Homo sapiens: one gene and its partner. The protein of the gene in region 2 binds, or shares a complex with, the protein of the main gene of each other region. Each region holds a gene or a part of one and is shown on either strand. Other genes may lie near its edges.

The links.
Region 1: RUVBL2 (region 2) and PDRG1 share a complex: the UniProt entries of both Homo sapiens proteins name them as parts of the PAQosome complex.

The regions. Positions count from the first base shown.
Region 1 is NC_000020.11:31,950,147-31,953,891, reverse strand, and holds the start of PDRG1 (p53 and DNA damage-regulated protein 1), read left to right. Parts: upstream 1-1,845; 5' UTR 1,846-1,930; coding exon 1,931-2,017; intron 2,018-3,504; coding exon 3,505-3,580; intron 3,581-3,745. UniProt on the Homo sapiens protein: May play a role in chaperone-mediated protein folding.
Region 2 is NC_000019.10:49,003,864-49,007,608, reverse strand, and holds part of RUVBL2 (ruvB-like 2), read right to left. Parts: intron 3,403-3,745; exon of another isoform or gene 3,354-3,402; coding exon of another isoform or gene 3,333-3,353; coding exon 3,191-3,332; intron 592-3,190; coding exon 462-591; intron 308-461; coding exon 241-307; intron 1-240. UniProt on the Homo sapiens protein: Possesses single-stranded DNA-stimulated ATPase and ATP-dependent DNA helicase (5' to 3') activity; hexamerization is thought to be critical for ATP hydrolysis and adjacent subunits in the ring-like structure contribute to the ATPase activity.

The DNA.
Region 1 (3,745 bases), on a different chromosome or scaffold from region 2:
GGAGGAGACGCAGTGCTGGGGTCCAGGCCGAGGGATGCCTGGTGAGCCCCATTTCTGCTTTGGCAAACATCCCCCTTTCCTTCTCAGGGCCTGTGCCTGCATTTCTGAACCAGAAGGTGTTTATACAAAACATCCTGGGTTTGGCGACAAATTCACCCTCAGTGAGGAATCCTTAATGAATCTCCCTCCTTCCCCACACCAGGTGGCTGAAGGAAAAATTAGCTCTGCCTCTGGTAGTTGAAGGCAGCCAATGGCTAGGCAACATAGAGGTGCTGCTGGGGCTTCTGGGGCCACAATTTTTGGGGAGGGTTTTTTCAGGGTCCGGAAATGGCATGGACACCAGGCACTCCTGGCTTGCTGTGTGATGAGGCACTGCCTTTCTCCTGGCCTCAGTCTGCAGCTGTGAAATGGGGCAGTAATAATCCCATCCATACAAAGGTTGCTTTGACACTCAAGTAAGGCAAGGGGTGTGAAGGGGCTTGGTTACAAGAGGTCAAAAGGAGAGAATAAAACGCTGGAATCAGGGAGGCGAGACATCAGAGTGATAATATCGGTTCTGCTCTTTAGACTTTCAAAGTCCTTTCCCAGCGCCTTTTACAGCCATGTGGGCTCAATGCCTCCTTCCCTCTGACCTCCTGCCTGCTTCCCCCCCGCCCATTCTGTTCCACATACGCTGGCTGTTCCCTCTGCCTGGAACACTCTTCTCCTAGGCATCCACATGGCTCACCCCTCACCTTCTTTTCAAAGCCTTGCCTCTCTCTGAGGTTTGTTTTTTCCAGCTATCCAATGAGGAGTTTGGGCGTGAAGACCTCGTGGGAACCCTCTGGTTCTGATGGTAACCATTTTCCACCTGCCTGCCTTCTCTGGGAAGTCCTCCCAATCCTACCACCCACACCCACCTGCTTTTCTGAGCTAGCACTTCATTGCTTACTGCCCATAGTTTTCAAGTCCCTTCCTTATGTATAGGCCAGCTACTCTGGACATTGGGCCCAACACAGGGGCTCAAGTGAACTCTGGTTAAACGGAATTAAAAGTGATTACTGCTTCCTTTGTTTTTTGAGACAGAGTCTCGTTTTGTCACCCGGGCTGGAGTGCAGTGGTGCCATCATAGCTCAGGGCAGCCTCGACTCCCCAGATGCAGGTGCTCCTCCCGCCTCAGCCTCCTGAGTAGCTGGGACCAACGGGCGCGCCCCCCCTCACCCAGCTAATTTTTTTTTTTTGTATTTTTAGTAGAAACGGAGGTTTTACTGTGTTGCCCAAGCTGGTCTCGAACTCCTGGGCTCAAGTGATCCCCCCGCTTTGGCCTTCCAAAGTACTGGGATTACAGGCATGAGCCACTGCGCCCAGCTGATTCCTGCTTCCTTCCGATCCTGTGGAGAGACACTGAGGCGGATTTTTATTCACCCCCTTTTTATAAATTAGAAACTGAAAGTGTCAGAGATTAAACATAAGTCACACTGCCACATGGGCCTTCTTGGTGTTTCTTAGCCAGGGGAAGAATAATATTTCCCAGATCCTAATCACTACCTGCCACGGTATATAATTGTTTTGCCATTAATTGTCGGTGTTTCCCACTAGGATGAAGTTCCATGAGGGCAGGGATTTTGTTGTGTTCACTGCTGCATCCTAAGCACATAAAACTGCTTGGCACATAATAAGTGCTCAAGAAGCATGAACCGAGGGAGTAACGGGTCAGAGGCAGCCCGAGGACTGAGCTCTCTGAGCCTGCAGAGGGCGCTCCAGCCCCGCCCCCAAAGCTAGGCCCCGCCTCTCGCAGCCGGCTGGCGCACTAGTGTTAGAGCCTGCGCACCACCGTTCTTTTAACTGCGCAGGCGCGCCGGAAGCACCTAGAGAGCGGCGCGTGCGCAGCGGGAGTCGAAGCGGAGATCCCGGGGTCGCGCGAGAGCCGCAAGCGGAGTTGGTGGGCGCTATGCTATCACCCGAGGCAGAGCGAGTGCTGCGGTACCTTGTAGAAGTGGAGGAGCTCGCCGAGGAGGTGCTGGCGGACAAGCGGCAGGTGAGAGGCCCCTCCGCGGCGCTGGGGCCTGGCGGCCGGCGCCGTGGGAAAGCGCGCGGGGTCGCAGTGAGTTGACCTGGACAGGCGGTTAACGGCTCCGAGGCGACAGACCTGGGCCGATAAATATTCGGCCGCTACTAAGTGAGCGCCTGCGCTATGCTGGACATTCCTCTCTCTTCATCCTTTCTCTGCCCCTTGCCATGCTCTGTGGATCTCGACCCATCATGCTCTGGGCCGTTTCCCTGAGCACCTGTTTCAAAATGCACTTCCCGGCCCCATGGTTGATCTAGGGGCACCGCCCTGTAAAGGCCCTCAGGGGAGAGCTGGAACCGAAAAGAAGCCTGAGGGGGCCTTGTGACCGGGCAGGGGTGGGGACGTGGGGGAAGGTGGCGCCCTGTTTATGGGGTGTCTTGTTTTAAGTGCCAAGTTTTTGAGGGGAGTTCCTGGGGGAAGGAGGGTGACGTAATTGGATTTAGGTTTTAAAAGGATCCCCCCTGGCTGCTGTGTGGAATACAGAATATAGGTGGGCAAGGGCGGAGGCAGGGAGATGGGTGAGGGGCCATTGGTATGGTCCAGACCAGAGATGGATTTGGACTAGGTAGTGGTGGTGGAGAGAAGTGAAGGGGTCAGAAATGTATTTTGGAGACAGACTCAGTAGGCCGTGGTAGTGGAGCCGGGGGAGTCGTGACTCCCTCTCATCTCCAGTTAGAAGGGTCAGGTATTTACTGAGAAGGGGAAAACTTGGGCAAGATCCTGTCAAATTAAGTACTGGATCAGGGTGTGCTGGATGAGAATAAGAGCAGTTAAAGTTTATCAGCTACTTACTATGTGCCAGGTACTGTGTTAAGTCATTTAATTGCTGGCTCAATAACCTGTAAGGTAGGTACTGTCCGTAGCTCCATTTTGAGGAGGAGTAAATAGGAAGGTGAAATTACACAGCTTGAGGCAGATAGCAGGATTCGAACCTGGGTATTCCAAATCCAGAACCAGCACTCGTGCAGTATACTGTACTACTGCGTCACTTCCTTAGTAGCTATTGTGTTGTTACCACTGTCTCAGTGCCCCCAATCCTGCTGTTCCAATCTAGTATTGTTGGGTTTCTCATATTACTAGTTCAGAATCAGCTGGAGAAGTTTGTCCAAAAATAAACATTAGGCCTGCTTAATCACAGTGTGTAGGGGAAGGGTTTCCACTCCCCTGGTGATTCTGATATGCCCTAAAGTTCGAGTGGATAATGCAGAATTTCCCATTTAGTCAGCACATGTTTTCTCAGCATCTTTTCTGGGGAGAGGGCAGCTGCACAAAGCATTGTCTTTAAGACCAGGAAGCTGAGTGAGAGAAGAAATACATTCACACATCAATCCATTTTAGGCAGGACGTTGAATGTAATCAGGAATAATGCATTGCCTCTGCAACCCTTGTCTGTCAAGAGGTGACAGCTTGGGGCAAGAGATAGCTGAGTTCCCTCCTGTCCCTGTGGTTTTCAGATTGTGGACCTGGACACTAAAAGGAATCAGAATCGAGAGGGCCTGAGGGCCCTGCAGAAGGATCTCAGCCTCTCTGGTAAGTTGAAATTTTCTCAGTGCAGCCCTGGAGGCCTGTTCCGTTTTCCTTTAAGGCCTTTACCTTGTTCCTGATAGAGATCAGGCAGGAGGTCACAGCTGTATAACTCAGCCTTGTGGGAAATTGAAACAGTCCGGGGAGATGGGGGAGCAAATTTTGCAGTTC
Region 2 (3,745 bases):
ACTCACTAACAGATCTCTCTCATTATTTTACCGCCTCAGTTTCTATTGCCCATAATGTCCTTCATAAGGGGATAAGCCATTGTCAAGTTAACTGACCTCCTACTGTAGGCATGTACATGGCTCTAGTCTGCAGCTAGAACATTCCATGGGATTCTGACCTCAGTGCAGACCTGATATCTACTCTCTCCAACCCTGGCGCTGGAGGTGGCCTCAGCAGGGTACAGACTCACACAGACTCACCGTCCCTGTTGCTGGTCGATCAATCTGGATCTCCACCACCTCCCCTTCGATGATCTCCGTCTCCTCCCTAGCCAGAGAGCAGATCTGAGGAGACAGCCTGACACCTGGACCCTCGGGAATCACAACCTTCCATGAGCTCTGGGACAAAGGACGAGCCGCCCGGGGTGCGGGGTTGCTCCCAGGCTCTGGGGTCTGGCACCCGCCTCGGGTCCCCCGCTTACTTGATGCGAACGCCGATGGACCGCCGGAAGGCCTGCGTCAGCGCCTCGGTCTTGCTCATCTCCAGGGAGAAGATTTCACTGCCGGCGATGGCTGTGAATGGCGTGTCAGGGCCCAGGGCCTGCGCCATGCCTGGGAAGGAGGCAGTCTGTGTAGGTGAAGCCGCTCTGGCACCAGGTCCCCGACACCTGCTCTGTGGCAAACTAGCTTTTCTCCCACCCCAGGAAAGAGGGTTCAGTGCCATCCTACATGTAAGGACTTGGCTCCGAGCTGAGCAGAGCGCTGGGGAGGGGGAACTGGAGAGCGGGGTTCAGCCATGAGGCAGACAGTGAGTGAGAAGCCAGGCAGGGCAGGTTGCTCCGGCAGGCCTGGCTTAGAATCCCACATTGCCCAGAGGGTACACCCTAGAACCTCGCCACACCTCAGTCTCCCAGCCTCTACGAGCTGTTTAGCCTCAGAGCTGGACGAAGGGGACCAGGGACGAAGGCCAAGGAGCCCACACGATAGCTACAAGTGATGAAGGCAGACTGCCTCGGCTCCCATCCCAGATCCACCACTTAAGTGCAGGTGGCGCCGTGGGATCTTGAGCGATCTGAACTGCTCCCTGAGCCTCAGTCTCCCCCTCTGTCTAATGGGGATGATAACAGAACACGTGCCAGCATGGGATGACACCCTGCTTAGGAGTGACTATGGGCAGGCAGGCAGGCAGGCACTGGTGCTCAGCAGTAACACGGTTGCGCAGCCTGAAACTGGCACAGGGCAGGACGCTCTACCGCCGGTGGCCTGGGGTGGCTGGCAGGAAGCAGGTCTGTCTCCAGCAATAGCTCTGAACGCCAGACCTTTCCTTCCAGTTCCCTGGCCACAAGGTTTGGTCCAATGTGGGGCACGCCCTTTCAGACAGGCTGACACCACACCCTCCTGCCCAGTGTCAAGTGGGACCTGTTCTTAGTCCTCTTTGCGGATACACAATGGCCCTCATCACAGAACTCAGCAAGTATCTGCTGAGGGCTGAGTGGACGAGCACGGCCCATGCCATCTGGGGACACCAGGGGTCCTCTCTGCCTCTTTCACTAGACTAAGAAGCGTCCCCGCCAGGGCGAGGCTAGCCTCACCCCAGTGCTGCCCAGCACAGGGTTTGGCCTGCAGGAGGCCTGCGGGAGACACAAGAAGAGGAAAGGCGAGGCCGGGCACAGTCACAACATGCCTAAAAAATAAAGTCTACAGGCTCCCGCCTGTAATCCCAGCACTTTGGGAGGCCGAGGCAGGGGGGTGGATCACCTGAGGTCAGGAGTTCGGGACCAGCCTGGTCAACATGGTGAAATCCCATTTCTACTAAAAATACAAAAATCAGTTGGGTGTGGTGGCACACATCTGTAATCCCAGCTACTTGGGAGGTTGAGGCAGGAGGATCACTTGAACCCAGGAGGCAGAGGTTGCAGTGAGCGAAGATCACACCACTGCACTCCAGCCTGAGCGACAGAGTGAAACTGTCTCAAAAAAAAAAAAAAATGAAGAAGAGTAGGAAAGCAGAAAGGATGGAGGGAAGGAAGTTACTGTGTGTGCCACATTCTGGGCCTGGACATGCTGTCCCCAGTGTCCGCCCAGGAGCCTCCTGGCCATCCTACTAGGCTTAGCTCAGGTATCCGCTTCTCTGGAAGCCTCTAGCAACAAATGCCACCACATGCCCCGTTTTCCTACCAAGGTCAGGAGCCTCCTCTGTCACATGCTACCTGCATTGTAACACATGTCGCCTTGGAAGGGATCGTGTCCATGACCACCTCCTCCAGACCAGGAGCTCTTTGAAGTCAGGCCTTGGTCTAACTCATCTATGGGTCCCCAGTGTCCAGTCCGAGCACCCCAACAGGCACTGCTTTATCTTCACTGAAGACCTGGCTGTTACTCTGATTCTCCCTGCCTGGCCCCAGCCTCAGCACAGAGGTGGGAGTGAGTGGGAAGAGCAGTGGGTTAGGAAAAGCTTCAATGGGGCAGAGATGCTGAAGTAGGGTTTTGAAGGATAAATAGGAGTTCAACAAGGAAGAAGAGGAACAGCTGGGAGTGAAAAGATCATAAACCACTAGCGGACTGCAACAAAGACTGCTGGGTGACTCCTCAATACCCACCTTCCCCTTCTTCCTTAGTTCTAGAACCCTCATTTTCTTTCCTGTTTTTTTTTTTTTAATTTTTTATTTTTACAACAACCTTTTGCCCAACAGAAGAATCCTCATTTTCTTAAGGCAAAAATGGTCCAAATTATGAAATTTTAAAAAACATTTAATGTGCCAGCCTCCCCTGAAGCAGAGTGTGATCATATGATTACATTCTAGTCAATGAGATAATGAGATATAAGCAGAAGCATGGAGGATTTCCAATGACTGTTTAAAGGAAGCCAACTCGAGGGGGTTCATCCTCATGGCAACTCCTTTCTTCCTGCTGCCTGGGTTATGAGTGGGAAGGCTGGAGCTCTGGCAGCCCTCTTGGAACATGGCGTCCTCTTGACTGGAACCAAGTGCAGAGGATGGTGAGGCAGGAAGATGGAAGACTTCCTGGAACTGCTTAATAAGCCCCAAATGGCCTACCTCTAGATTCTTCCATGGGCAAGAATGAATCCTGAGTGTTTAAGCCACTGCCATTTTGGGTCATCTGTTAAAGGCGGCTCATCCTGACCCTGACTTACACAGGAGGAGTTATTTAGCAGGAAACAGGAGAGTTCCTGCCCTGGGAGGTTTCTTACCCATGGCGATGGCCGTCTTCCCCGTGCCCGGCTGGCCAGCAATAAGGACTGCCCGACCGGCAATCTTCCCTTCCCGGATCATCTCCAGCACCACGCCAGCCGCCCGCCGTGCCGCCAGCTGACCCACCATGCCTTGCGAAGCCTGTGGGTGGGAGGCGCACATGAGGTGATTTCCTGTGGGGCTACCATGGCATTTCTACCACATCAGGAAGCTAGTGAGATGGAAGCAGACATTACTAGCTGGGACTTCTAGGAAAAGCCAAAAAAGCTTTCCCTGCTTTTTTTTTTTTTTTTTTTTTTTTTGAGACAAGATCTCGCTCTGTCACCCAGGCTGAAGTACAGTGGTACAATCATGGCTCACTGTAGCCTTGACCTCTAGGGATCAAGAGATCCTTCCACCTCAGCCTCTTGAGTAGCTGGGACCACAAATGTGCACCACCATGTCCAGCTAATTTTTAAAATTTTTTGTAGAAAGGAGGTGTCACTATGTTACCCAGGCTGGCCTCAAGCTCTTAGGCTCAAGCAATCTTCCCATCTCAGCCTCCCAAAGTATTG